Linked DNA regions of Homo sapiens. The protein of the gene in region 6 purifies or fractionates together with the protein of the main gene of each other region. This does not show direct contact. Each region holds a gene or a part of one and is shown on either strand. Other genes may lie near its edges. The genes, in order: PEX2, MYH13, ACBD3, REPS1, GULP1, DNAJC6 and HK3.

Region 1 (4,053 bases), on a different chromosome or scaffold from region 6:
CTGTGTGCTTAAAATATTCAGTAAACCATGCTGTAAACAGATGTGCTGTCATCCAGGCTTTGTTTTTTTCATTTATAAAGTACAGGCAGAGTAGTTCTAGCATAATTCTTAAGGGTCTTTGAATTTTTAGAATGGTAAATAAGCACTGGCTTCAACTTAAGAGCCACCAGCTACATTAACCCACAACAGGAGAGTCAGCCTGTCCTTTGAAGCTCTGAAGCCACATATTGGCTTCTCCTCTCTAGCTATCAGTGTTACATGGCATTTTCTTCCAATATAAGCCTTTTGTCTATCTTGAAAATATATTGTCTAGCGTAGTCACCTTCATCAATTATTTAGCTAAAGCTTCTGGATAACTTGCTGCAGCTCTGATGTCAGCATTTGCTGCTTCAGCTTTCATGTTTATATCATAAATGGTTATTTCCTTAAATCTCACGAACCAACCTCTGCTAGCTTCCACCTTTTCTTCTGCAGATTCCTCACCTCTTTGTCTTAAAGAATTGAAGAGAGTTAGGAACTTGCTCTGGATTAGGCTTTGGCTTAAAGGAATTTTGTGGCTGGTTTGATCTTCTATCTAGACCACTAAAACTTGTCCCACATCATCAGCAATAAGGCTGTTCACTTTCTTTAATTCATGTGTTCCCTGGAGGATCACTTTTAATTTCCTTCAAGAACTTTTCCTCTGCATTCACAACTTGGCTGTTTGGTATAAAAGGTCTACCTTTTGGCCTGTGTTGGCTTCTGACATGGCTTCCTCACTAAGCTTAGCAAAATCTAGCAAAATCATTGCTAGATTTTGATTTAAAGTGAGAGATGTACAACCCTTCCTTTCACTTGAACACTTAAGAGGCCATTGTAGGCTTATCTTAATTGGCCTAATTTCAACATTGTTGTGTCTTAGGGAATAGGCAAGTCAGCAGAACAGTCAGAACACCCAATATTTGTTAAGTTCACCATCTTATATGGATACAGTTCTTGGTGCCCCAGAATATTTATAAGTTCACCATCTTATATGGATACAGTTCGTGGTGCCCCAGAACAGTTACAATAGTAATAACAAAGATCACTGATCACAGGTCACCACTAAGAATATCATAATAAAAAAAAGTCTGAAATATTGCCAAGAATTACCTAAACGTTACACAGAGACACCAAGTTGAGTAAATGCTGTTGGAAAAAAAATTGTGCAGATAAACTTGATTGACTCGGTTTGCTACAAACCTTTAATTTGTAAAAGCAGTATCTGCAAACCAGAAGAAAGCACAGTAAAATATAACGAGGTGTGAACTAGGCTATACCAAGTAGGTTTGTGTGAGTACACCCTATGATGTTCGCACAATGATGAAATCATCAAACTATGCGTTTCTCAGAATGTACCCCCTTGATAAGCAACTCATAACTGCATCTCTTCCTCAGGTTCCTTAGTGATATTTAGTGAGAAACTGGTCAGAGTGAGTGGTTTGTCAGAAGAATCATCTATTTCAAGTTTCTTGTTTTTGGAGGAATTACACTTAAAAACATTCAGTAAAAACAGGAATTTTTAATGACTGCCAGAAAAGGAGACCTAAAACGGTCTTTAACCAATACAATATTTAACAATATTTATTATCAAAAAATTCTTTCTTATCCCTTCTGTTACAGTTTAACATTTTTTTCTTTCTTCTTTTCCTCCCCAGGCCTGGCCTCAGTGTAGATTAGGAACAGCTGGGTTTGCTCTCCTCCCTACGTAAGACTCTTTAATAGACCAAAAGACTATTATTAAACTGTTCTTCAGCCTTTGCTCCTCCAGATGAATAATTTCTCTCTATTTTTTGTTTTAGGTTTTATTTTCCAACATTTTAGTCATTTTTGTGACTTCTTTTAGTTGTAAACATAGAACAGACACTGTCTATTACACACCATAGTTCATTAAAGTGGAATACTTCTCCCATGCTCTACATTCTTCTTTAGGCATCTGTCACAGAGTGGAAAAAGCAGATTTAAAATCAAACAGGCCTGGGCTCAAGTTCTAGCTCTGTCACTTACTTGCTATGAGATCTTAAAAAACTTCATTAGCCTCGGATTCTTCTCCTAAAAGTTGGAAATAACAGCTACCTCACAAAGTTGTTGAGATTAAACCAGATAATGTTACGAAAGTGGTTTAGAAGCCATAAAGCAGTATTATTTATTACATTATTGTTGCTTTGGCTAGGGATGAGCATGAAAAGTAACAGGCCCCAAACTAATTTTGGCAAATCTCATTTCGAAAGACTGAAACCTTCACTGTTAGTTATAGTAATGCCTCAATCAACCTGTATCAAAATGTTTTTCCAGGAAATATTGACATCATTAAGACATAAATTGTGGCAGTTAAACCACAAACATAATGTCACCCTTATGTGTGCACGTGGGAGGGGCCAGGCAGGAGTGGGCAGAGATATGATGGTTCAGTGGAACTCACTGCCCACTTAACTTGCACCTTGTCTGAAAGGATATGACACAGTGTGGATAGAGAAAAGAGATGGGTTCCCGCATGACCTGCTCCTGTCATTATTTAGCCCCTATCAACATAGTTGTGCCTGTTATCTTGAAGTAAAGAAACCTCATGAATGCACACTTACAATATTTGACTCTAGGGTGCTTTGCTGCACACAACATGGTACAGGCAGTCCAAGACAAGCAACAAACTTGTATTCATCACCAGCATATTACATTCAGTTCTTCCTCATCACACATACTCCCACCCCACTCCTCTCTTTCTGGCAGGTACAGCTATTCTAGAATACTCTCTTTAGAAAAGGGCAGCAAAGGAGTAGAAGAAAATGATGAAATCAAAATAACTAGAAATTCAATTAACCCAATTATGGAATCTTCTTCCCTCTACAGCAGTACAACAAGATTTGTTATAATAGGTATGAAGCATAAATGCCATAAACGACTTTATATCACATAAAATTATTCCCAATATAGTGTAAGCAGTTTGTGTTTTAGTGAATTCTAATTCTCTGACAAATGGTTACTCAATGTAACAAATATATACTGGACACCTATCAAATACAAGGCATTCTCCTAGGTACTAGAGATTCAATCTAAATATTTAACTGTCAGCTAGCTTCCTTTTATTCAAGCATTTTAAAAGACATAGGAAATCAGGACTGGCCATTGATCTCTGAAGTGAAGAATGGATCCCAAAACGTGAAAACATTATAAAAGATCACAAAACTTTCCAGGGAGAAAAGAGGAAAATGGTATGTAAGGCAAGGGAACAGGCTGTGTGAAAGCCCAGAAATAGCAAGCTCCTGACCATAGCCTAGCTGGGACATACGGACATGAGTTGCACCATGAGCTACATCCTTGGTTATTTAACCCCCGTCAATGTGGCTGCATCTGTTATCTGGAAGGAGACAAGTCATCTGTCATGACCAAAGCAGGCTGGCAGGAGAGACTGGCTGAAGTGTCAACCTAGCCACATTGTAAAAAGAACCTGTGTTAAGGAAATTGTATTGATTCTGTAGGCATGAATAATCATTGAAGAGAAGAGACATAATGGGATATAAATTTCAAAAGATTAATCTGACGGCAGAGTTCAATAAAACTGAAGAAAAGAAAAACTGCCGTTCTGGGAGACCAGATTTATAGGATTCCTGCAACAATTCAGGGGCCTACCTATGATGCTAACAACTTCCCTGAAAAGTCAAAGTAATTTAACTTACTTAAGAACCATGGAAATCAAGAGGAAGACTATACTATCCTTTCACATTTTTGGGTCAAAAATTCCCAGTGCTTTTGGTAAACTAGTACTCTCCTTACTTCTGTTACAAGGATTGCCAACACCCATGCCCAACCACTGGTAAGTCTATTTTGACTTTACCTTCAATCATTTAAGTAAGCTTTAACAATTTCTATATTATTGGTCATTGTAAATTAGTATTTAGTTTTATAAATGTAAGCTCAAACTTGAATATTTTTAAAAATTACAAGCTGCTTTTTGTAAAAAGAATTGCTTTGAATTGAACCACCATTAAATTTAATTCTAATAGATTTTTCCTATTCTACCTTTTCATACACAATCCT
Region 2 (3,874 bases), on a different chromosome or scaffold from region 6:
TGGCTGCATAGTATTCCATGATGTATATGTGCCATATTTTCTTTATCCAGTCTATCATTTATGGGCATTTGGGTTGGTTCCAAGGCTTTGCTATTGTGAACGGTGCCTCAGTAAACATATATGTGCATGTGTCTTCATAGAATGATTTATAATCCTTTGGGAATATACCCAATATTGGGATTACTGGGTCAAATGGTATTTCTAGTTCTACATCCTTGAGGAATTGCCACACTGTCTTCCACAATGGTTGAACTAATTTACACTCCCACCAACAGTGTAAAAGTGTTCCTATTTCTCCACATCCTCTCCAGCATCTGTTGTTTCCTGACTTTTTAATGACCATTAGGGGATCTTGAGTTCACTCTAGAATGATTGGCCCATGAGTCCATGAGAGAAGCCTGGGAGAGGAGATTTGAATTCTGTGTTCCTTTCATCCTACTCAGGTGCGGGAGCTGGAAAATGAGCTTGATGTGGAACAGAAGAGGGGAGCTGAAGCCCTGAAGGGAGCCCACAAGTACGAACGCAAAGTCAAGGAGATGACTTACCAGGTAGGGGTCCCAAAAACCTCCTCAGTGAATGCTGTATGGACCAAGCCCCATCAGAAGTGACCATAGGTTTGCGGGCCCCTGCCACGTGTACTCTGTTTGCAGGCTGAGGAGGACCACAAGAATATCCTTAGGCTCCAGGACCTGGTGGACAAGCTGCAGGCCAAAGTGAAGTCTTACAAGAGGCAGGCTGAGGAGGCGGTAAGCACAGGAGGTCCCCGGCAGTGCCCACAGACAGACAGTCCCTGGGGCATCCTGGGTGTCCCCGCCATCCTGGTTGGTAAAGTCCCCTGAGCCTCAGGCCTGAGTTTGTATTTGCAGGCTATAAACACAGAGACAACTGCCCTCTTCCTCTCCTGGTCCATGTTAAGCCTTCACGACCTTCACCATCTCTGTGCCCTCTTGCCTCACCCTACTTGGCCAGCCCCCTCCATCCCCTTCATCCTGCCCACCGTGACTCACTTGACACCCCCTAGAGCATGTTAGCCTACTCTGCTGGCGTTGGATCACCCTGACTCTCCCGAACCACCCCAGTCTACCCTCAAAGCCATTCCTGCTCCCATGACCTGACCTGAGATACCTCATCCTAATTCCCACCATCCCACCACAGCCCACCCTCCTAGGCATCTCCAGCCTTCCTCAGCCCTCCCTAACTCCCTCCACTCCATCCCATCCTTTTTCATCCACCCTTTGATCAAATAGGTGAAATCAATAGGAAAGAAATGGAATGGGCTAAAATCAGTGTTTCCCAAAGTGTCTTCTGAGGACACTGGTTCTGAGGGATGTTAATAGCAGGAAGGTGGGGCTGCCATGGGGAGGAGCTTATCCTTTTATAGAAAAGAGATCGTTTGGGAAAATCTGAGTTAAACAAAGTTACCCTGGTTGCTTTACTTCAAGGATATCTCAGATTTTGTAGATGTTGTAGAGTTTGATATGTCATCAACTCTACAAAGTGGAAGAAGGGTTCCAGAATATACCATTTCTCACTCTTCATTGACTTTAGAACCTTCTTATTGTATGCAGAGCATCCCTCAGGGCTACTGTTCTGAGGACCAAAATTTAGGGGAGTCTGCCCTGGACAAATGACTGAGCTTCTCCCATTGCTCTTTTTCCTCCCTTCCCTGGAGCCTGGTTGGTTCAATCCTGACCTCAGGGAAGCAGATTTGAACTGGTTCAATATTGAGAGCAATTCACGCACATGGGATGAGTACAGTCCCAGCAGGATCGGCAGGCTAGAGGGTGCCCAGGAGGACATTTTAGTCAGGAATCCTTGACATTCCCCCAAATAGACCAGTACAGTGGCCTGGCCTTAGACAGATGGTGCTGGGCAGAGGCACAGGACGAGGGAGACTTGGGCCATTGGTCTCTATACCTTCAGGTGCCTTGGGAGAGCTCTGGACTTAGGTCTCCCCCGAAGATCTCTATGGAGCAGATACCATATAGAAGAGATTCAAGGGAACATGTGGAGGTCCTAGAAGGGACAGTAGCACCTGCAAGGTGATCCGAGGCAGTACACATGGTCGTGAGCTGGGAGCCTTGTCCTCACACGCTGGAGAAAGCTTCCCTGCCCTCTCTGCCATCAGGGAATCCAGGGCCCTGGTTGCTTAACTCCTCAGAGGCCTTCAGAGACAGGGCACCTCATAATCGGACTGAGAGGCTCTACAGCGTCATACCCCCTCTGTCTCCTGTGCAGGAGGAGCAGGCCAACACGCAGCTGTCCAGATGCCGGAGAGTCCAGCATGAGCTAGAGGAGGCCGCGGAGAGGGCGGACATCGCTGAGTCCCAGGTCAACAAGCTGAGGGCCAAGAGCCGAGACGTGGGCAGCCAGGTAAGAGCAGGTACCTGAGATATAGGGGCCAGCTAAGAACAGATATTGAATATGGGGGCCAGGTAAGAGCGAATGCCTGAGTGTGGGAGGCCAGATAAGGGCAGGTACCTGAGATGTGGGGACCAGGTAAGAGCAGGTACCTGAGATGTAGGGGGCCAGGGAAGAGCAAGTACCTGAGTATGGCTTCTTCCCAAGAAATCCCAAGCCCCGGGGGAGTCCCATGGACCACCCAGGGAGAGCTTGGAAGATGACTGTTGATCCTCTCCTTCCTGCTGCTGGTTGCACACTCCCAAATGCTACTGTTTGAGCAAAGACTCCTGTGGTTCCAGGCTCTTGAAAGAATGAGCAGTGAGGCACGACACTGTCATCCCTGTCTGTCCCTGTTGCTACAGATGCTGCCCATGAAGCCCCTGTTTTGCAGGGCGTTTGTCCTGTCGCCAGTAGCTAGATTGATTTGCTTTTACAATGTTCAAAGGGAAACAACGCCATTCCTTAATATTCCTCTGAAGTTCCAGATTTTCCAGCTGCTTCACTTCAAGATGATGTTCAGTCTCCCATTTAGTTGACTCATTTCCTATGTACAATTATTTTTTTCTCCCACAGAAGATGGAAGAATGAGGCTCACCTGATGCTCGTTGCCATGGGACACCTCCGAGAGAGTGGAGGGAAAATGTGTGAGAAATAAATTCTCCTAAATACTCGGATTCCCGGCTCTGCTGTGTTTATTATCATGGTCCATTCCTCTTCTATGAAGCTGATATTTAGATTCTTGCTGCTCTATCGTAAATATAAAATAAGGAATGTGAAAGTGGAGGATCTTTGCTCCAAGTAGAAAACATGGAAATCCAACCCATGGCCAGGTAAATCACTAGCTTCCACAAACATTTAAAAATAAAGACCCTATATCACTCTACATCTCTCAGAATAGCTATTATCAGAAAGACAAAAGTGTTGGTGAGGACGTGGAGAAAAGGGAACTCTTGTGCACTGCTGGTGGGAATGCAAATTGGTACAACCTAATAGCAGTTTTTCAAAAACTTAAAAATGGAACTACCATATGATCCAGCCATCCCACTACTGGGCATATATCCAAAGGAAATTGAATCAGGATCTTTTTTTTTTTTTTTTTTTTTTTTTTTTTTTTTTTTTTTTTTTTTTTTTTTGAGACGGAGTCTCGCTCTGTCGCCCAGGTCGGACTGCGGACTGCAGTGGCGCAATCTCGGCTCACTGCAAGCTCCGCTTCCCGGGTTCACGCCATTCTCCTGCCTCAGCCTCCCGAGGAGCTGGGACTACAGGCGCCCGCCACCGCGCCCGGCTAATTTTTTGTATTTTTAGTAGAGACGGGGTTTCACCTTGTTAGCCAGGATGGTCTCGATCTCCTGACCTCATGATCCACCCGCCTCGGCCTCCCAAAGTGCTGGGATTACAGGCGTGAGCCACCGCGCCTGGCCTGAATCAGGATCTTGAAGAGATATCTACACTTCCATGTTTATTGCATCAC
Region 3 (4,053 bases), about 160 Mb from region 6:
AACTAAAAACTCTCTCTAAGGCTGAATTCTAGGGTTGTCTATCGTACCTGTTGCTGTGCAAGCTGGACTTGATACAACTGCTGCATGTACTGCTGATAGTGTTGCTCCTGCAACTGGCGGATGAGAATTTGCTGCTGTTCGTAGTTCCCTGGATACTGTTGGGCTGCATACTGCTGGAACTGCACGGCAGTCTGGGAGTTTAAAGCTGCCATTATCTGCTGCCTAAAAACATTAAAAATATATATACTAGTCTGGCTACAGGAGATTGTTCATGACAAAATAAAATGTCCTTATTACTTACTTTTACAGTCTGTAACTCTTAAAAACAACTAAGCTAGTAATGTACACCAATTAGTATGTGTTCTGGGTCCAGAAGAAAGATTTAAGAAAATAAGCCTGGCCTCTAATTTTTTACTTAGGATTTTCCAGGAAAATTCGGGATGGAAGATAAGCATATGATCATCATCATCATGACCACCATCATAATTATTAACATTTATTGTGCCCTTACTATGTGCCATGCAGTGTTGAAAGTACTCACACATACTAACCCATTTAGTCCTCACAACAACCCTCTGACAGAGGGTTCAGTAACTTGCCCAAGACTATACTGCTAGCAGATGCTACAGCCTGATGCAAATCCAGGCAGTTTGGCTCTAGAGCTACACTAATTTACCACGATGCTTTAAGATGATGGATTGTCATCTCTGACATAGATGAGGTATTTAACTGTTGGCTATGGCTTCTGTACCTAAATACATAAAAAACAGTAAGAGGCAGAAGAATAGCTGGAAGATGTTACAGGTGGCCCTGGTAAGTATAAATAAAGCCAGTGAAAAATTAAGGGTCCACAGCATTTAATTTAAAGCCTGTCTTAATAGAGGAAATACTGAAAATATCTTGGCATGCTTAGTTTAGAGATACTCATATTCTTTTATAGATAAACCACATGCTTCTTCTTTTTTTTTTTTTTGAGACGGAGTTTCACTCTGTCACCCATGCTGGAGTGCAGTGGCGTGATCTCAGCTCACTGCAACCTCCACTTCCTAGGTTCAAGCGATTCTCCTGCCTCAGCCTCCCAAGTAGCTGGGATTACAGGCACCTGCTACCACGCCTGGCTAATCTTTATATTTTTAGTAAAGACGGTTTCACCATGTTGGCCAGGCTCGTTTCAAACCCCTGACCTCAATCAAGTGATCCGCCCGCCTCGGCCTCCCAAAGTGCTGGGATTACAGGCATGAGCCACCACAGCCAGCAACCACATGCTTCTTAACTTACTTATGTGACCAACTTAACAGAGACCTCAAAGCCATCTATTAATAGATAACAAAGCAAAGCCTCACAAACTCCTACATACAGCACAACATTCGATCCACCTAGGACAACCTCCCCCAAAAAAGAGCTGCATTCATAGTCTTTCTCCAAAGTTGAATGAGGGCCTGGATTAGTTTGAGGCTAGCACTAAACCTTTTTCTGAGGAACTACCCAGAAATAATGAGAAGAAATCAATGGACTCTCATGTTCTCTGGTTTAACCTACAAGCCATGCCACCCCTACAAACTCAGACTTACTTCCCAGTGTTTTATGGGTGTTAATCACTGCCTCCTTGTACCCACAGCTCCCTCTTGAAGAACCTGTCAGTCTCTGAGTCTCAAAGCCCTTACTGAGTAAGCAATAGTTGAAGCCTCCAAATCTTGTACTAAGGACTATAAATGGATATCTGACATAGACTGGACCAACAAGATTCTCTGTCCTGGGAAACTGCAACTGGGTCTCACAGATTCCAGCCAGTCTCTGTCAGATGCATGGAAACATAGACCAAATAAATCCTCGGACAGCCTTGCATATGCCAAAGCAGACAGTTGACAATTTGCAGAGAGCAAGGATGAAGCAGAGACATAAGCTGAGAGAAGCAGAGACAAGAAACAGAGAGCGCAACCAAGCAACCTCAGCTCCTGCTTCCAATCTCTGGGTTCTGCAAGTGAACCCCCAAACCTTCTAATACATTCCTTTTTTTTTTTGAGACGGAGTTTCACTCATTACCCAGGCTGGAGTGCAATGGCGCGATCTCGGCTCACTGCAACCTCCACCTCCTGGGTTCAAGAGATTCTCCTGCCTCAGCCTCCTGAGTAGGTGGGATTACAGGCATATGCCACTGCGCCCAGCTAATTTTTTGTATTTTTAATAGAAACAGGGTTTCACTGTGTTAGCCAGGATAGTCTCCATCTCCCAACCTCAGGTGATCTCCCAACCTCAGGTGATCTGCCCGCCTCCGCCTCCCAAAGTGCTGGGATTACAGGCGTGAACCACCACACCTGGCCCGCTCATTTCTTATTTTTATTCTATTTTTTTTCCATTTCTCATTTTAAAACATAAGCCACATAATAAACTTACTTTTGCTGCTCCAACCGAAGCCTTTCTTCTTCTATCCGTCTCCTTTCCTCTTCCTCCCGTCGAAGCCTTTCCTCTTCTTCTCTCCTACGTTTCTCTTCCTCCTTTTGCAGACGTTCTCTTTCTTCCTCTTCACGCCGCCTTCGCTCCTCTTCCTCCTTCCTACAAGGCAAAGATAGAGAATGAACCCTATACGTTGAATCCTGTTTAAAAATAAAACTTTAGCTCCCAGGGAAAACTGACATGACCTTTTTAGAGAACAATGTGGATATATACATCAAAATTTAAAATACATACACTTTACTAGCAGAAACTTATAGGGAATCAATCGCACAATATACAAATCACATCAAGAATAATTATTGTTGCACAGCAACAGAAATGTGTCCATCATAAGAAACTACTTAAGTCATTATGATATTCCTATACCCTGAAGGATCCCCTCTAATATATGCTCACAGCACTAAAAGCTTTTCCTTCATAATACCTGCTGTCATTATAATTAAATTTGTGTGATACATTCAGCAATAGATCTGCATTACCCATTAAACTAGATGCTCCATAGGGGAAGAGACTGCCTATCTCACACCACGACATCCTCAGGGCTTAGCACAGTGCTGGAAAGAACAAGCACTCGACAAACGTGTACAGAAGTAAAAAATCCACCCTGAAATATCGCAGAGCCAAAGGATAGAAATACATTGCCTAATATGTAAAGACATGTAATACACTTGCTTAATGAAAAAAAAAAAGGTGAATACAAAGGAAAAGATCTGGAAGGACATACCCTAAATTTATCAGTTATTATCTATGCAGAGGAGAGTGGAATTAAAAGAAATGTGGGAAAAAAGATTTTTTTCAGTTTGTGTTTCATATACTGCCATAAATGAAAATTTTATATTGCATATATTTGTGTATTATTTCTGAAATTAAAATTTTTTGTAAAGCTTTTAATTTAAAAAAGAACGGTTAACCTCTCAGGGCAGCCCTTGCCCAGCTTTCACCCACCCCACAAGACCCTTCCAAAAAGAACAGATCCTATTGTGCTAGGAATGGACATCTTCCGGGTCTGAGAGTGGTATGGTGTTCAGGGAGCCTGCAGACAGGATGAAAGGGAAGATTTCTAAGGAGTATCAGATAAGACACTATTTCATAAACCTACCACGAGAATTGTCTGGGCTACCTCACCTTTCTCCCCTCTAACTCCTATAAGTGATTAACAACTACCTGAGCCACAGCCAAGTCTCAAAATATTGTAATAACATGACCTATTTTTTTTTTTTTTTTGAGACAGGGTCTCACTCTGTCACCCAGACTGGAGTGCAGTGGCACATTCTTGGCTCACTGCAACCTCCGCCTCCCAGGCTCAAATGATCCTCCCACCTTAGCCTCCTGAGTAGCTGGAATTACAGGGACCTGTAACCACATCCGGCTAATTTTTGTATTTTTTTTTTGTAGAGATGGGGTTTTGCCACGTTGCCCAGGCTGGTCCTGAACTCTTGGACTCAAGTGATCTGCCCGCCTCGTTCTCCCCAAGTGCTGAGATTACAGATGTGAGCCACCACAGGCGTGAGCCACTGCACCCGGCCATGACCTACTTTTAATGTGTCACAGCTGGTACAGAGCAAGAAGGTTCACAAGCCAGAGCTTAAGCTTCAGGAT
Region 4 (4,053 bases), on a different chromosome or scaffold from region 6:
CTAGATTAAAGACCTTTACCATGTTTATAATATGCAAATATTTCTCCCCAATCTGTGGCTTATCTTTTTATACTTTCTTAAGTATCTTCTCAATTGTAAAAGTTTTAAAAATATTTAATAAAGCCCAATTATTTGTTTCTTTTCCTTTTCTTTTTTTTTTTTTGAGACAGGGTCTGGCTCTGTTGCCCAGGCTGGAGTCCATTGGCGCAATCTCGGGTCTCTCTGACCTCTGCCTCCCTGACCTCTGCCTCCCAGGCTTAAACCATCCTCCTGCCTCAGCCTCCCAAGTAGCTGGGACCACAGGTGCACACCACTATACCCAGCTAATTTATTTTATCTTTTTTTTTTACAGGCAGGGGTCTCCCTATGTTGCCCAGACTGGTCTCAAACTCCCGGGCTCAAGTGATCTGCCCGCCTCAACCTCACAAAGTGCTAGGATTACAGGCATAAGTCACTGTGCCCAGCCCTGTTTTGTAGTTTTAAATACAAAAATCTTGGTGACTCTTTTCTTAAGTTTATTCCCAAGTATGTTAGGCCTCTTTGAAGCTAATGTGAATGTATTTTTTTCTTACTTTCATATTAAGATTTTATGTTACTACTACACTGTTAATCCTGCCTCAGTTTGTAGAAAACAAATAAAAGCCATTAGGCCAGAACATCCTCCCACTAAATCTATATTCCACCCACTAAATCTATATTCCTACTTGCGTCTGTAACCATGTTGTTCTTTCTTCCCCACTGTTAAAACTGAGGAAGTGGCCGGGCACGGTGGCTCATGCCTGTAATCCCAGCACTTTGGGAGGCCAAGGCAGGCAGATCACGAGATCAGCAGTTCGAGACCAGCCTGGCCAACATGGTGAAACCCTGTCTCTACTAAGAAGACAAAAATCAGCCAGGCGTGGTGGTAGGCACCTGTAATCCCAGCAACTCTGATGGCTGAGGCAGGAGAATCGCTTCAACCCGGGAGGCGGAGGTTGCAGTGAGCCAAGACCAGGCCATTGCACTCCAGCCTGGGCGACAGAGCGAGAATCCATCACAAAAAAAAAAAAAAAAACAAAAAAAAAAAACTGAAGAAGTATCCCCTTCCTATCAAAGGACTCTGTGCAGTCAGGATCCTGACCACTCCTGCTTTCTCAAGGACTTCTCATCTCCCTTATCTTAGCAATCCTAACAACTAAAATCATTCTGCAGAATTTCTCACACTCAAAAAGAAACAAACAAAAAGATTTCCTTTATATCCTCATACATCTCTAGCTTCTACCCTGTATCTATTCCCTTTCATAGGTAAACTTCTTTAAAAGCTATCTATACACCCTGTCTCTAGTTCCTCAGCCATCATTTATCCCTCAAATCACTCAAATCTGGCATCCATCTACACTAGTCCATGAAACTGGCTCACTGAAGTTACTAATAACTTCCAGGTTGCCAAATCCAATGGCCACATTCCTGCCCACATGTTCTCAGCCTCTCAGTGAAATTCAATACAGCTGACTACCCACCCCCTTGAAATACTTGCATTATTTGGCATCCACGACATGATAATACTATATATTACACATTCCCAATTTGTACCACTCTGATTGTGTGCTTCCTAGCGTCCTTCCAAGAAGCCTTCCAGTTTACCCAACTTAGAAATGTTCAGCATTCCTCAGGATTCCAGTTCTAGTCAATCTTTCTCTCTTCTTTATAATCTTTTCTTCAATTATTTCATTACCTTAAGTATCACTAACATAGTGACAATCTTCAAACTGACATCTCTAAGCCAAGTATCTCTGAATTCCTCAAGATGTATAGATCTCTCTAACAGGCCTACTTGACAATCTTACAGGCTTCTGAGAACTAAGATAGACAAAAGGGGAACTGCTGAATTCACCCTTACCTCTCCCACGAAACAATCCCCCCCAAAATCCACTCCTCTTCCAACCATCCAATAGTGGCAACTTCCAGCAACATCCTTGAGTTCTTTCCCCTCCCTTATGTTCCATATCCAACCCTATTTATGCCTTCGTATTTCTACCACCTAAAAAATTCTCACAGATGTCCACTGCTCTCTATCCTACTGCCACCTCGCTAATCTAAGCCATTGCTGTCTGCTGCCTGGACTGTTGCATATCCACTAGCGTATCTGCTTCCACTTGCCCCCAGTATTCTTTTTGCTCATACAGCAGTCAGCATGATCTTTTAAAATATAATTCAGATGATGCTACACCCCCGAATAAAAACTTTTAGTATATTTCCACTAAAATCCAAATTCCTTATCACTGAGTACAAGGGCCTGCCTTATGCAGTCCCTGCCATTCTCCCCTCTTGTCCACAGTTTCAGTTCCTTAAACACACTGTGCTCTTCACAGCCTCAGGCCCTTCCCAGTTCTCTCTATATGAAACACCTTATTCTCCCTCCCCTGACCCCCCATCCAGGCATCCTCTAAGGGGCCTTCCCTTACACCTAAGTAGGTCCCCACTACCTCCTCTGATTCTACCACCCAATGATTCTCTATTATTGTACACAGTTCTTTTTTCCTTTTTTTTTTGTGGGTGGGGCGGGGGGGGGGGGGAACGGAGACTTGCTCTGTCACCCAGGCTGGAGTGCAATGACACTACTATGTTTACTATGTCTCATTGCAGCCTCAACTTCCCAGGCTCAAGTGATCCTCCTGCCTCTGCCTCTCAAGTAGCTGGGACTACAGGTGCAGGCCACCACGCCTGGCCAGTTCTTTTTCTTTTCGACATTGGCACAAGTCAGAGAAGATGTCTTGATCCTTCACCACTGCATGTATACCCCCAATACAAAGAACAGCCACAAAGAAGTCTTTGTTGAAAGTATTTAAAACTGATTTAAGACAGAAGTGTTTAGCATTTCACAGGTCAGCCTGCTCTTCCTTAAAACTGAATTAATGTAGAAGTCCATAAGATGAGCTTGACTCAATTAGGGGAAGGCTGGAAATCACAAATTAAGTGCAAAATTCTGTGGAACTATGTTTTCTAAGCAGATGTCCAGTGCGTGCAGCAGAATCTCAACGGAATCAACAGCCCAAAAGAGACAGACTAATAAATTCTGTCTTCATTATTTAATGAGACAGACCCCAAATTCAACACCTGGCTAATTCTTGAAACAAAATGCAGAAGAGATGTAGTATTCTTAATTTTAAAAAGCCTAAGTCTTAGAATTTATCAAATCTCAATGAAATCTGGTATACAGTTTAACTTCCATTAGACAAATTTCTTACACAGAGGGAAAAGATGAGTGAAGATGCATCTATAATAGGAAAGGCTACAGAAAATAAAACCTATATAAGGGAAAACATCAGAAATGACAAGTCTTATCACCCATTTCAAATTCTCACGACCTTGAAGAACTAAGCACCCATGGATTTATGACCCTTTCATCAGTTTCCTCTTGTATATATCTCCTCTTTGTATTCCTCAAAGAATGTCAAATAATCCTGTTCCAGTGTCAAGATAGTGGAGCAACTAACCACAAGACTTTGTGCTACTTTTAAAGGGGTGTGGCTGGAATAGATTAGCCGCTCCTACACAAAGATACTCTCATTTGAGTCAGAAATCATGAAAACCCAATCCCATAGCTATATCAGACATTCTGTGATTTGTTCAGGGTTACAAAGTTAGCTGATGCCAGAACTGGAACTTGCCTCCCACAGTTAGTGCTCTTTATACCAGCTTCTCATGCTCTTGTGTCGCTCCATCAAATGTTTGGCACGAATTCCCAATATACTAAAACTCTAACTCTGGGCTATTGATTAAAACAAACAAACAAACAAACAAAATGACTGAAACTAGCACAAGAAACTCAAGAAGACAGAAATTTTAAAAGTAAATAAATAGGACACTACAGAAACACATTGACTGTGACTTCTTTCACAAACAGTATCTTTTTCAACTGTGTATAGGTAAGTGATTATGGCAAGATTATTTCTGTAGTTTATTACAATTATTTTAGTGATTCAGAACTAAAAACCACTACTCCAGAATAACAAACCTGAGACTTATTAAGTTTATAACTTTCAACACAGAAATGAGCTCTGCTTTCCTATT
Region 5 (4,053 bases), on a different chromosome or scaffold from region 6:
AAGAGCCTAGACGTATGGAAATATTAGATCTTCAGTACACATTTTATAATATTCCATAGCAGATCACAACTATATCAAATGTATACAATAGACAAGTGAGACAAAATGAAAATTAAAGTGATATGCATTGTAACATACGGTCTACTACTAAGAACAATTTCAAAATCCCAGTGATGAAGCAGTGGGACTAGGAAGACCAAAACCAAAACTAAAATGTACACCATAAAACCTTGAGGGAACTTTTTAGAAGTCTTGAATATTTTTATTCAAGGCTTCAACCTAAAATTATTTAGTTTGCAATTCAAAATCCATCAGTATGACCAATTCATGTTCATGTATATAACATATAAGTGACTGACAAACTTTCTAAGAAATAGCAACCTTCCCTTAGAGTGTCTCTGAGGAAAGTAGAAACATGCACGTATGTTCTCACCTAAACAGAGACTCTTTAAAATACAAAGGTGTCCATGTAGATCATTCTACTGCATTGGGCCTCACATTTTAAATTTATGATTTAACATAGAATAAGGATATCAACATCAATAAGACTGTAATATATTATTAGACGATTTGGTAGATTTGAATCATTGTCTTGTATTACGGAAATTCAACTTTAACTTTGGACCTCTTGTTAGAGAAGATGGCTTGTCATTTTTTAGTTATCTAGCCAAGTTTTGTTGTTGTTGTTGTTTGTTTGTTTGTTTTTGAGACAGGGTCTTACTCTGTGACCCAGGCTGGAATATAGTGGCATGATCACGGCTCATTGCAACCTTGACCTCCCAGGCTTACCATAGCCTCCACCTCCCCGGCTCAAGCAATCTTTCCACCTCAACCTCCCAAGTAGCTGAGACTACAGGCATGCACCATCATGCCCAGCTAATTTTTGTATTTTTGGTAGAAATGGGGCTTTGCCATGTTGCCTAGGCTGGTCTCCAACTCCTGGACTCAAGCTATCAGCCTACCTCTGCCTCCCAAAGTGCTATGACTATAGGCATGAGCCACCATGCCCAGCCTAATCAAATTTTATCAAGAATGTTTCTGTTGCTTGCCACATCTGGCTTCATCTTCTACTTCATCATAAACTGAAAATAAAATAATATCTATAATAGTGATTTACATTATTTTTATTTTCACTTTACTTTTAATTCCACAACTCCCAAAATTCCATTCCTACTTTTTTTCTTTCCCTTTCCCCAAAGAGACTATACTAAAGCTAAGATTAAATATGTCTTTTATTTGACTAGCAATTGCTTAGTGTGAACTATATTGTGTTAGACCAGCATATCCAGATATTTTAGAACATTATTGTGCTTATAAGTATATATTTGTGAACCAAATTATAGCATTAAATCATTTATAAAGAACTACACCTCAATTAGAGATTTTTGACAAAAGTGTCACCTTTCTGTGACTTGAAAAATTTGGCTTCCAATGGGATCAAGACCTGTCTTGGGCTGGTCAGTTGTGAAGAGTTTTCTGTGTTAGGGGCTCCTCTCACCACTAAAAACTCATCAGATGCTAAATTAATTGCATACACCATACCCACCTATGTTGTAATTCAATATGCATCACGGGATTCATAATTTACTTCAATGCTTCTTTAATGAATGTGTAGATCACTGCCTCTAATCCTTTGAATAAACTGATGAGAACTTACTCATTTTGGAGCACTCTAATCCTCAGTCCTCTGAGCTCAAAACAAACACATAAAACCCACAGAGTCCTATTTCCAGGGTTATAAACTCATTAAACATTTACTTTGCTAGCCATGGGGGCACTCTGTGAGGTACTTTGTGTTCCTGCTGTGTGTCCTGTAAAACTGATGTTCAAATTTCATAAGAAAGAACAGATGTAAAACATTTCTAACTTAACAGAAATTTGCTTTATTGCAGACACATGGTAAGCTATTAAATATTTTAAATTCACATTTTATTATTTGCAATTTGCATTGTCTGTTTTTCAAATTCAATAATCTGAATCATTAATAAATCTTCAAAAATAATTGCAGGTAACTATTTTTGTTTTATTTTAATATCAGGAATTTGGGAGCTCATTTGAATAGATATGAGATAAATAAGCTGTACTTAAGTGTTCTACGAGTTTATTTCATAGCTACATTACTAAAATTTGAAATGAAAGGCAAAAATGTTTTTTAATAGGAAACACATTAGCAAATGCTGTAACAATGTTTTTTAAACCATTTGAATTGGTTAGATATCTCATTAATTTACATTTTACATTTTAGCATTTAATTTTACATTTAAATTTTAGCAATTTTAAAATGCTCTTGAGTTCACTTTCTTCTAAAAATCAAATAAATTCTATTTTCACATATTTGTTGTGAGAACAATTAAAACTACTCTTGGCAATTTTCAAGTATATAATACCTTGTTATTAACTATAATCACCATGTTGTACAAGAGATCTCTTGAACTTATTTCTCCTAATTAAAATGTTGCATCCTTTGATCATCTTCTAGACCCTTTCTCCACAACTCTGCCCCAGCCCCCAGCAACCACTAGTCTACTCTCTGCTTCTATGAGTTTGACTTTCTTGGATTCCACATATGAGTGACATCACGTGATATTTGTCTTTCTGTGCATGGCTTATTTCACTTAGTATAATGTCCTCCAGATTCTATCTTAATGAAGATGTATATCTTCCAGCATATCAACAATTTAAAAAATCATATGATAAGATTTTAAGAGCTAAAAAGCCATGTGACAAATAATTTTTAAAGTTAAAGAAAAAGTGTAGACAACAACATTACATGACAAAAGACTATAAGTAGATTGCAAAGTTATAATTTGTTATTTCCATAATGATCAAGGATACAATAAATTTTCTACATATATATGAACTCAGTGTAAGACCGTGATTTAAAGAAAGTGATTTGTTTTTAAATTCAACCTCTTAGTTGTAGTTTTTGAAGCATTTTATTTAGATAAATCCAGGCTGAGATGAACACAATGCCTAAAATAATTGTTAAATGATGTAACCTCAGGAGTGCTAATTCATTTTAAAACATAGCTATTTCATTATTTTTACTCTTTATATATAACTGGCTCTACTAATGAGAATTGCTAAATAAATGAATTATACTTATGAATAGGCTATGTTTCATTTATATACCAACTTGCATGCTTTCCACTTGAAATGGCTATTTCAGCCAAATGGTCAAAGACACTGAAGCAAGGGTCATCTTGTCATTCCTCCTGTCCTTTGTCATTTCTGAAGCTGACTCAGTAACCCTATGAGATCACCAATGCACATTAATAATCCTGACCCACCTTCTTCTCAGAGCAGTGTCTGCTTTGGGAAGATAAAAAAGGTAGGCTGCAGTTTTATTAATATGTTTGAAACCTCTTTGCTCCTCTCAAATGTTCTTCCTCAGATAAAGAGGTTACACAATGACCAGGTTTGGATTTGCATCCAAGAAGGTGATGGAGCTTATTTTACTCCTTTGTCAACACAAAAATGAAAGCAAAGCTACTCTTCATATGTGATGAATTCCAGAAACAACTACGTTATCAAAACTCCTTGAAAAAGTTACTTCCCTTCACATAAATGAAGTACATTTATTCTTATTCTCCTAGCATATTTCGCAACATGGCTTACAATATGAATTTCAACAAAACCCAAGAGGATGTGTGTTCCATCTTGGGATGGAAGGTTGAATAATGAGTTTGAACTGATGTTCTGTCCCTAGCAGCGAGAGAGGCAAGAAAAAAATCATAATCCTGGTGAGCAGCAGACAGTGACAAGAAAAAATAAGAAGGAATATCAGAATAAAACCAGAACCTGAAGAGGATGCTCCAGCATAGATACATTGGTACCTCAGTCCCAACCTCTCTCATCAAGGCCATAGGAGCCCTACTGGCACAAACCATCTGCCAAGCAATGGAAATACTCACTCTTTCAAATGGGAGGTGGAAAAATGTGAGTTTACAGGAAAAATCATTTTTTGACCCATTTCCAGAGTGTGCCAAGTTTGAAACCCTAAATGAAACTTCTATAGAAACATCCTTTTTCATAGTGATGAGCTTGTGAATG
Region 6 (4,053 bases):
TCAAATTCAATCTATTCCTAACTAATTTCATGTTATGTTACCACCCACTCCCTTCTCTCCACATCCCCTATGACCACCCACTGGCACCTGCTCTTTATTATGGATTCTGTAACTTCTTTAATTACATCACCGTCTACCTAGTTGCTCACTTAGAAACCTCATTCATCAGTGATTCTTCCATTACCCTCACCTAATCCCATCAAGGCCATCTCCTTCTTCAATGACCAGGTGTCCCATGTTCCCCTTGGTCTTAATCCTGTATACAGCTTATGCTAGTCCCTTAGCCTATATCATGGTTTCATTTGAAAAAGGGCCATAACATCCCCTGATTTACTTGTACTTTTCTATGATTACCACTGATGTTGAACATTTTTTATATATCAGCTATTTCACAATGATATAGTCTTGCAGGAAGAATATGATTCAACTCATTCCTGCTCATTTACATGAGAATTGAGAAGTACATAGGAAGAAGTAAAGTATCATGACTTACTTCATTCGTTCAAAATCTGTGCAAGTCGAATATATTTTGGTTTCTCCAATGAGTACATCACAGTAAGGGCGACATCCATTCCTCTGTTTGTTGAAAAAGGGTATTGGACTGACAGTGATCGACTTAATTGTGAGAGGCTTGAAGTGAGGGCGGTAGGGCTTGTCTGCCAGTAGGTCACACATATAGCCCAGGTATCTGAAACAGAAGGTTGGCACTCTCTTGGGGCCCATCACATCAGGAGAAGCAAGCAATCAATATTTGCTATGAAGATTCTTCTTGCAAATTACTGTTATAATAAAAACTTATTCTATCAATTTCTTAAATATTAACTAGCAAAAGATAATGCGATCAATAATTTAGGAAACATTTTATCTACTGAGATTGCTGTACTTCCCCAATGAACTGATACTGGGGTATTTATTAAATCAAAAAGCTTATGGGAATTTTATAGTACTTCAATATTTGAACATCTATTCCTATTTTATCTAGCAGATCCAATTTATCAGCTAAAATTTGGCTTTGGATAAATTTTAGAATTTTATCATCAGAAGCACTTTTAATCCAAAAAATTAAGGAGATGTAGTTTTTAAAAAAATGAAGAAATTGTGATAAAAGAAAAATCAATGTTATCTAAAAACAGTTTTCTTTTTTATTCCATTTTTCAGATTATCTTTTGTAATCTTTTATTTCTATATCAGAGTTACATGAAAAAGTGAATTTTAAAACGCTTTATTCTCTATGTATTTTTGCATTTCCCTTTGTTAAATCAGGTTTCCCACAGGAGGATCACCAGTGATAAGTATAACCAGCTACTGCTGTTTTTCAATAAAGACCTGTATAATAAAACAAAAAGGGACTGGTCTTAGAGCTTGGGATCAAGAATGCTGTTCTGGCTCTGTCCACTGGGCATTAGACCTGAGGCAAATCACAACCTGTCTTGAGTCCCAGTTTCCTCACCTGTAAAATGAGGGAAGTTGGATATAAGTATTCTTTAAAGTTTCCTTCTAGTTTTAACATCATAAATTTTCGTATGGGGGCTTACAAACTGAATGACAATCTAATATCCTAATCCAATTCAGTTTTTGCATAGTTCAGGATAATGTCAGATTGATGTGGTTTGGCTATGTCCCCATCCAAATCTCATCTTGAATTGTAGCTCCCATAATCCCCAACGTGTTGTGGGAGGGATCCGGTGGGAGGTAATTGAATCATGGGGGCGGGTTTTCCCATGCTGTTCTCATGATAGTGAATAAGTCTCATGAGATCTGATGGTTTCATAAAGGGCAGTTTCCCTGCACACGCTCTCTTCCCCGCCACCATGTAAGATGTGCCTTTGCTCCTCCTTCCCCTTCCACCATGATTGTGAGGCTTCCCCAGCCATGTGGAACTGTGAATCCATTGAAACTCTTTTTCTTTATAAATTACCCAGTCTCAAGTAGTTCTTCATAGCAATATTAAAATGGACTAATACAGAGATAAAGTAAAAGAAACTTATGAAAGGATTTGTAAGGCAGATTTAAAACAGTACATGATACCAATTAGACTACATCTGTGCCTAGCCTGCATCTAGCTTACTTTACCTCCTATGGGATGGTGAAAGTCCAATTCCTGGTCGCTTTGCATATAGCAATCGAATGGCTGGGCCAGGAGTAGAGTAGAGATTACAGAAAATGAACATAGCACCAACCAGAATTGATGATGCCGCCCGTCCATCCTGTCAAAGAAAATGCATAAAATCATTATGAACATGATCAAATCAGCCATTCTCCATTGAAAATGGCAGAATTTGCAATTAAGAGACAGAGAGAGGAGAAATCCTCTTAACTGTGGGTGCTTTTCATTTAAAAATTATTCACTTGAAAACCAAAATTTGTTTCAGCTTTTTAAATCAAAGGCAGCAAGGAAAGACTTATCCTTAGAATAAAATTGATTCTAATCTGAGAAGCCCAATTTGATTTGTATATATTTGGTGAAAAATAATATAATCTTCAAAGTAATTTTGGACTTGTTGAATTAATAGTTGAAGTCTCTTGGTTTAGGACTGGAAGTAACGAGCTCACAGGTTAGGTAAATGCTGCTTGTTGGGATATGGCATATATGTATCTCATGCAAAGTATGTTCCTAGATTCGTATAAAATAAAGAACCTTCACCAGATTCAACTTCATTCAATGTAGAAATAAATCTGTTGTGGACTGAATGTTTGTATGCCCCAGAATTCATATGCTGAAATCCTAACCCCAATGTGATGGTATTAGGAGGTGGAGCTTTGGGGAGGTAATGAGGTAGGGAGAGTGGAGATCTCATGAATGGGAATTGTGCCCTTATAAGAACAGACAAAAGAGCTTGCTGTCAACTCCCTCTGCCCTTGGCCAATGTGAAAAACAAGAAGACAGCCATCTGCCACCCCAGAAGCAGGCCCTCACCAGACATTACAAGTGCAGGCACCTTGGTTGGGCACAGTGGCTCATGTCTGTAATCCCAGCACTTTGAGAGGCCAAGGCGAGCAGATTGCCTAAGCTCAGGAGGTCGAGACCAGCCTGGGCAACATGGTGAAACCCCAACTCTTCGAAAAGAAAAAAAGAAAGAAAAGAACTGCAGTCACCTTGATCTTGGACTTTCCAGCCTCCAGAACTACATTCCTGTTGTTTAAGCCACCCGGTCTATGGTATATTTGTTACAGCAGCTCAAGCTAATTAAGACAAAATTCAGTAACATCCCTGACAGATGTGACCTAGCTTCTTCTAGAACACTTTAAGTGACAGGGAGATTACTCATACTTGAAGTAGCCCATTCCAGTTTACAGAGCTCTTCCTTATACTGAATATGTTGAGTTGACTTTCATTCCTCCATAGCTTCCACTAAATGACCCTCATCCTTTTGTGAGAACAAAAAATAAACCTACTCCTTTCTTCCTATGGCAGTCCTTCACATATCTGAAATACCCTCCCTTTCTATCAATGCTTCTATTTCCCTTTTAAAACAAACTCAATCCCTTCTATTCTTCCTCACTTGATTTTCCATTTTAAGAGACATCATCATTTAGCACATTTCTTCTAAACAAATTCAAGTTTTAAAATGACAACCTTAAATGCTGCCCAGATGTGAAATGAAAGATATGAGATATATTCTGACCAAACTAGAGAAGAAATATCATCTTCTTTATTCTGGACACTATGCTTTTATTAACATAACCCCAGCCCAAGCTAGTATAAATGTAGGCTAAGTAACAACATAAGCTTTTATTATTCTCTCTATCCACTAAAACCCCTAGATTTTTTCCAGATGACATGTTAAGGTAATGTGCAAATATGTTTAATTTTTTAAAACCAGAATTCAGGACTTTACATTTATCTTGTATTTAATTTCATATTATTAATTTTTGTTAAGTGACCAACCTACAAGAACTTTTAAAATCCAAATTCACTATGTGACCCTTATAATTCTAAGAAAATTGATAAGCTGAATTTCCACATCTTCATCAAAGTTGTTGATTAAAATGAATAACTAAATAAAGCCTTCTCCCAGGAGAAAGGTGATCCATTAATCACCTACCTTTGGA
Region 7 (4,053 bases), on a different chromosome or scaffold from region 6:
AGAGCCAGAAAAAGGGAGTGCGAGGACTCAGCTGTAAGTTTTCTCAAGCCGGATCATCTGGGGTTTCTTTCCAGCAACTTTCATCAGCCTTGAGTTCTTTTCAAGGGAACTTTCTAGGTTTTATAAAGCTTCACATTGACATAGAAACATCTCTGCATTCAGGTAGATATGGGTTCAAATTCTCCCCTGCCCCTTCACAGCTGCTTGGCCCTGCAGATGACTTGCCCTCTCGGAGTCTCCGTTTCCATATTTCTAACACTTGGGCAGCTGGGGCTCAGAGGGGCAAGGCTGAGACCCCGCCTGTCCTGCAGCTCTTTGACTTTGCTGCCCACTGCCTGAGTTCCTGGATGTGCAGCCTGTGAGCAAACAGGGTCTGCAGCTTGGCTTCAGCTTCTCTTTCCCTTGTCACCAGATAGGCCTGGTCAGGGTGAGATAGAGTGGGCATGGGCACCCCTAGCAGGCATGGCTGCTGGAAGCATGTGCTGTAAGGCAAACGTGTAAGTGGACATCTGGCACCCCAGTTAGGATGATTCGCCTTCTTAGGGATCTGTTTCCCATTCTCTTCCTAAAGCAAGAGGTGGGACTGAGTTGTCCTTATCTCCCTCAACTGGCAGCTTCTCCTCCCAGCCTCTCCTCCCTGGAGCGGCCTTATTATCCAGGTGCCTGAGTTGTTATTCCAAAGATAAGTGTCCAGTTTGGGGCAATAGGTCATTGAAATGGAACTCCTGTGTGACAGGAAGTGGGGGCTTTGGAAAGTCTGAGCCTGAGGAGGATGGAGTTGCCAGGCTGTGACCCTTCAATGAATCCAGGGAGGCTGTTGGGGCTTCTTTGAAGGATGGGTGAGAGAGTCATCTAGGGGAGGGTATTTGCTCACAGGGATGAGGTCCCTGGGGCTCTTAAGCTACTGGGCTTCTGGTGGAGTGACAGCCTGGGGTGTCCTGGCTTCTGCCTTCCCTGCCTTCTCACCTGCCCCTTCAGACTCCGATCCACTCCCGGATCAGTCTTCTCCAAATCCATCCCCTTGCTCTTCCCCTGGATCTTCGAATGGCTTGTTCCCTTCCTTCATTTAGATCACCTCCTCAGGGAAACCCTCTTGAACTCATATCTAAAAATACCTCTTTCTACCCTGGTCACTCTCTAATTTCTTATCCTGCCCCCCTACGTTTAATAGCCACCATCACTACTGGAACCAAATTGTATGTTCACGTGCTTAATTTCTGTCTCCCACCCTGGAATCTAAAGCATTTGTTGCTTCTTGGGTGGTTATGTGTGTGCGGTGCTTAGAATACAGCTGGGTGCATAGTGAGGGCTGGAGCAATGTTTTGGGAAGGATGACTGACTGAAAAAAGGACCATCCTCTGCAGTGTGGTCTCCAAATGCTCTCGTGCTGGGCTTTTTCAGGCTTCAGAGTCTGAGAGTGGATTAGGAGAGGGAAACACTTGAAGTTTGTTCGTGCATTTGTTTATTCTCTTGTTCGTTCAACAACAACTCACTGAGAGACTCTTGCTGTGGGTCCTGGGGAGCCAGAGAGCAATCATTAGTGGTATGGCAGGAAGAAGGTCTTGCCAAACCCTGAATTCAAAGAAGAGGAGGGGTAGGGTAGAGGATGTAAGAAATTGAGAAGGAGCCGTGAGGTAATGGGGCAGGAGGAGGAAGAAGGTGGGTTCTCTTTCCAGGACAGAGCCTTCTGAGGATGCCAGAGCTGGGTGCAGGCTGTTGGCAAGAGAGTCAGGGTGTATGAAGAGCCGAGGAGTGGGCTGGGCAGGGCAGGCCTCTGCCTTGTTTGGAGGTGGGGAGTCTGGCCAGCCCAATGGTGCTCCTTCCCAGATGTTGGCCTGTTTCTCCCCAGGTGCAGGAGTGCCTGCAGCAGTTCAAGGTGACAAGGGCACAGCTACAGCAGATCCAAGCCAGCCTCTTGGGTTCCATGGAGCAGGCGCTGAGGGGACAGGCCAGCCCTGCCCCTGCGGTCCGGATGCTGCCTACATACGTGGGGTCCACCCCACATGGCACTGGTGGGTATCATAGATTGAGATGCGTGGCCAGGCCTGGAAGAGGGTACTGATCTAGGGGAGGGAAACGTTCCTTATTCCTGTCCCCCATCTCTATGGCCCCTTGACCAGACTTTGCAGGCCTTAGGAATTTGGGAAGTGGGCAGAGGGCTCTGGTCTTGCCAGCTGCATGGCTTTCTGTGACCTGCTTGCCCTCCAGAGCAAGGAGACTTCGTGGTGCTGGAGCTGGGGGCCACAGGGGCCTCACTGCGTGTTTTGTGGGTGACTCTAACTGGCATTGAGGGGCATAGGGTGGAGCCCAGAAGCCAGGAGTTTGTGATCCCCCAAGAGGTGATGCTGGGTGCTGGCCAGCAGGTAAGCACTCACTGCCCAGCCTCTGGGGTCTGGGGGCCTGGCTGGGTGGCTAGGGCTCAGATGGGCAAGGCTGAGCCCCCCCACTTCTCCTGCAGCTCTTTGACTTTGCTGCCCACTGCCTGTCTGAGTTCCTGGATGCGCAGCCTGTGAACAAACAGGGTCTGCAGCTTGGCTTCAGCTTCTCTTTCCCTTGTCACCAGACGGGCTTGGACAGGGTGAGGTGGAGTGGACATGGGACGCTGGGTAGAGGGTGGCTGCAGCCCCATGAAGGCCGTCAGAGGAGTAACCCAGCTTCTCTACCTCCAGAGCACCCTCATTTCCTGGACCAAAGGTTTTAGGTGCAGTGGTGTGGAAGGCCAGGATGTGGTCCAGCTGCTGAGAGATGCCATTCGGAGGCAGGGGGTGAGTGGAGGGAGGGGTGACAGGAGGGCTGCCCATGTTGGCCTGGGCCTGGCACACATGCGTTGGGTCTGGGCTTCTGAGAGAGTTGCTTTCCTCTTCTCTTCATGTCCTCCATCCAGTTTAACCTCCATCCAGTTTAACCTATACATGGTACATGTTGCTACCATTCCCATTGTATAGGTTAAAAAACACTGAGGCTAAGAAAGGTCAAATAAACATTCAGGACCTGGGGCAAAAAAACATGAATAGACTTTGACCTCCTCCTCAAGGTTTTCACAGTCTAGATGGGGAAGCATTCTAATAAAAGATTGTCCGTGTCAAGGAGGAGTGCGTGGACAACTCTGGGAGCACTACGGAGGAAGCACTGGCTCTTTGATCAGGGGCTTGAAGGAGGAGTTTGCCTCCCTTCAAGTCAGGCTGGGGCTGGGGCGGATGATCTAGTCTCAGAGAAGGCCACACACAAGAGTCTGGATGCTGGACAAAGGCTGATCCGTCTGGGCTAACCTCTTGTGGTGAGAAGCCAGTGCTGGGAGGAACAGGCTTGGGGAGCCAGGCAGGATGACAGTGAGGCTGGCAAGGCGCAGAGTTCAAGGAGGTGCTCAGTCTCAGGAAACTCATCCTGGTCCTGGGAGATGGTGAGGGTGGACGTCACTGTGACCTGGGGGCGCAAGTTGGGGGTTAGGGAGGAGCTGAGGGTGGGATTGGAGGAAAAGTTCCTATAAGGTGGGAGCCCAGAGCATCTGTGGCACAAATGTGTGTGGCATGCAGACATGTGTTTCATGGACTCTATGTATCTCCTTCAAAGCCAGGGCCCCAGCCCTGCCCATCCCCTGGATTCCCTCCTCTGGCCACTCAGGCCAGCCTTGACCTCTGCCCTCTTCATCATCTAGGCCTACAACATCGACGTGGTTGCTGTGGTGAACGACACAGTGGGCACCATGATGGGCTGTGAGCCGGGGGTCAGGCCGTGTGAGGTTGGGCTAGTTGTAGGTGAGCCATGGACCATTTGTGATGACAGGTGGAGGGTGTGCTGCCTGGCTAGCAGGCCTTGACAGGGTTGTCTCTGCCAGACACGGGCACCAACGCGTGTTACATGGAGGAGGCACGGCATGTGGCAGTGCTGGACGAAGACCGGGGCCGCGTCTGCGTCAGCGTCGAGTGGGGCTCCTTCAGCGATGATGGGGCGCTGGGACCAGTGCTGACCACCTTCGACCATACCCTGGACCATGAGTCCCTGAATCCTGGTGCTCAGAGGTGACCTGGCAGGGGGCCCTGACCTTTGGTTCCA

What was found.
Region 1: the proteins of DNAJC6 (region 6) and PEX2 purify together in Homo sapiens (affinity purification with mass spectrometry, with the first as the bait; one large-scale study listed by BioGRID). This does not show direct contact.
Region 2: the proteins of DNAJC6 (region 6) and MYH13 purify together in Homo sapiens (affinity purification with mass spectrometry; one large-scale study listed by BioGRID and IntAct). This does not show direct contact.
Region 3: the proteins of DNAJC6 (region 6) and ACBD3 purify together in Homo sapiens (affinity purification with mass spectrometry, with the first as the bait; one large-scale study listed by BioGRID). This does not show direct contact.
Region 4: the proteins of DNAJC6 (region 6) and REPS1 purify together in Homo sapiens (affinity purification with mass spectrometry; one large-scale study listed by BioGRID and IntAct). This does not show direct contact.
Region 5: the proteins of DNAJC6 (region 6) and GULP1 purify together in Homo sapiens (affinity purification with mass spectrometry; one large-scale study listed by BioGRID and IntAct). This does not show direct contact.
Region 7: the proteins of DNAJC6 (region 6) and HK3 purify together in Homo sapiens (affinity purification with mass spectrometry; one large-scale study listed by BioGRID and IntAct). This does not show direct contact.

What each region holds. Positions count from the first base shown.
Region 1 is NC_000008.11:76,989,713-76,993,765, forward strand, and holds part of PEX2 (peroxisome biogenesis factor 2), read right to left. Parts: intron 1-4,053. UniProt on the Homo sapiens protein: E3 ubiquitin-protein ligase component of a retrotranslocation channel required for peroxisome organization by mediating export of the PEX5 receptor from peroxisomes to the cytosol, thereby promoting PEX5 recycling.
Region 2 is NC_000017.11:10,300,068-10,303,941, reverse strand, and holds the end of MYH13 (myosin-13), read left to right. Parts: intron 1-443; coding exon 444-548; intron 549-650; coding exon 651-746; intron 747-2,238; coding exon 2,239-2,373; intron 2,374-2,976; coding exon 2,977-2,991; 3' UTR 2,992-3,077; downstream 3,078-3,874. UniProt on the Homo sapiens protein: Fast twitching myosin mediating the high-velocity and low-tension contractions of specific striated muscles.
Region 3 is NC_000001.11:226,159,137-226,163,189, forward strand, and holds part of ACBD3 (Golgi resident protein GCP60), read right to left. Parts: intron 2,554-4,053; coding exon 2,395-2,553; intron 223-2,394; coding exon 48-222; intron 1-47. UniProt on the Homo sapiens protein: Involved in the maintenance of Golgi structure by interacting with giantin, affecting protein transport between the endoplasmic reticulum and Golgi. Involved in hormone-induced steroid biosynthesis in testicular Leydig cells.
Region 4 is NC_000006.12:138,978,144-138,982,196, forward strand, and holds part of REPS1 (ralBP1-associated Eps domain-containing protein 1), read right to left. Parts: intron 1-4,053. UniProt on the Homo sapiens protein: May coordinate the cellular actions of activated EGF receptors and Ral-GTPases.
Region 5 is NC_000002.12:188,571,302-188,575,354, reverse strand, and holds part of GULP1 (PTB domain-containing engulfment adapter protein 1), read right to left. Parts: intron 1-4,053. UniProt on the Homo sapiens protein: May function as an adapter protein. Required for efficient phagocytosis of apoptotic cells. Modulates cellular glycosphingolipid and cholesterol transport. May play a role in the internalization and endosomal trafficking of various LRP1 ligands, such as PSAP.
Region 6 is NC_000001.11:65,382,347-65,386,399, reverse strand, and holds part of DNAJC6 (auxilin), read right to left. Parts: intron 2,208-4,053; coding exon 2,074-2,207; intron 689-2,073; coding exon 494-688; intron 1-493. UniProt on the Homo sapiens protein: May act as a protein phosphatase and/or a lipid phosphatase.
Region 7 is NC_000005.10:176,889,347-176,893,399, reverse strand, and holds part of HK3 (hexokinase-3), read left to right. Parts: intron 1-1,849; coding exon 1,850-2,012; intron 2,013-2,208; coding exon 2,209-2,363; intron 2,364-2,458; coding exon 2,459-2,578; intron 2,579-2,669; coding exon 2,670-2,765; intron 2,766-3,655; coding exon 3,656-3,755; intron 3,756-3,835; coding exon 3,836-4,019; intron 4,020-4,053. UniProt on the Homo sapiens protein: Catalyzes the phosphorylation of hexose, such as D-glucose and D-fructose, to hexose 6-phosphate (D-glucose 6-phosphate and D-fructose 6-phosphate, respectively).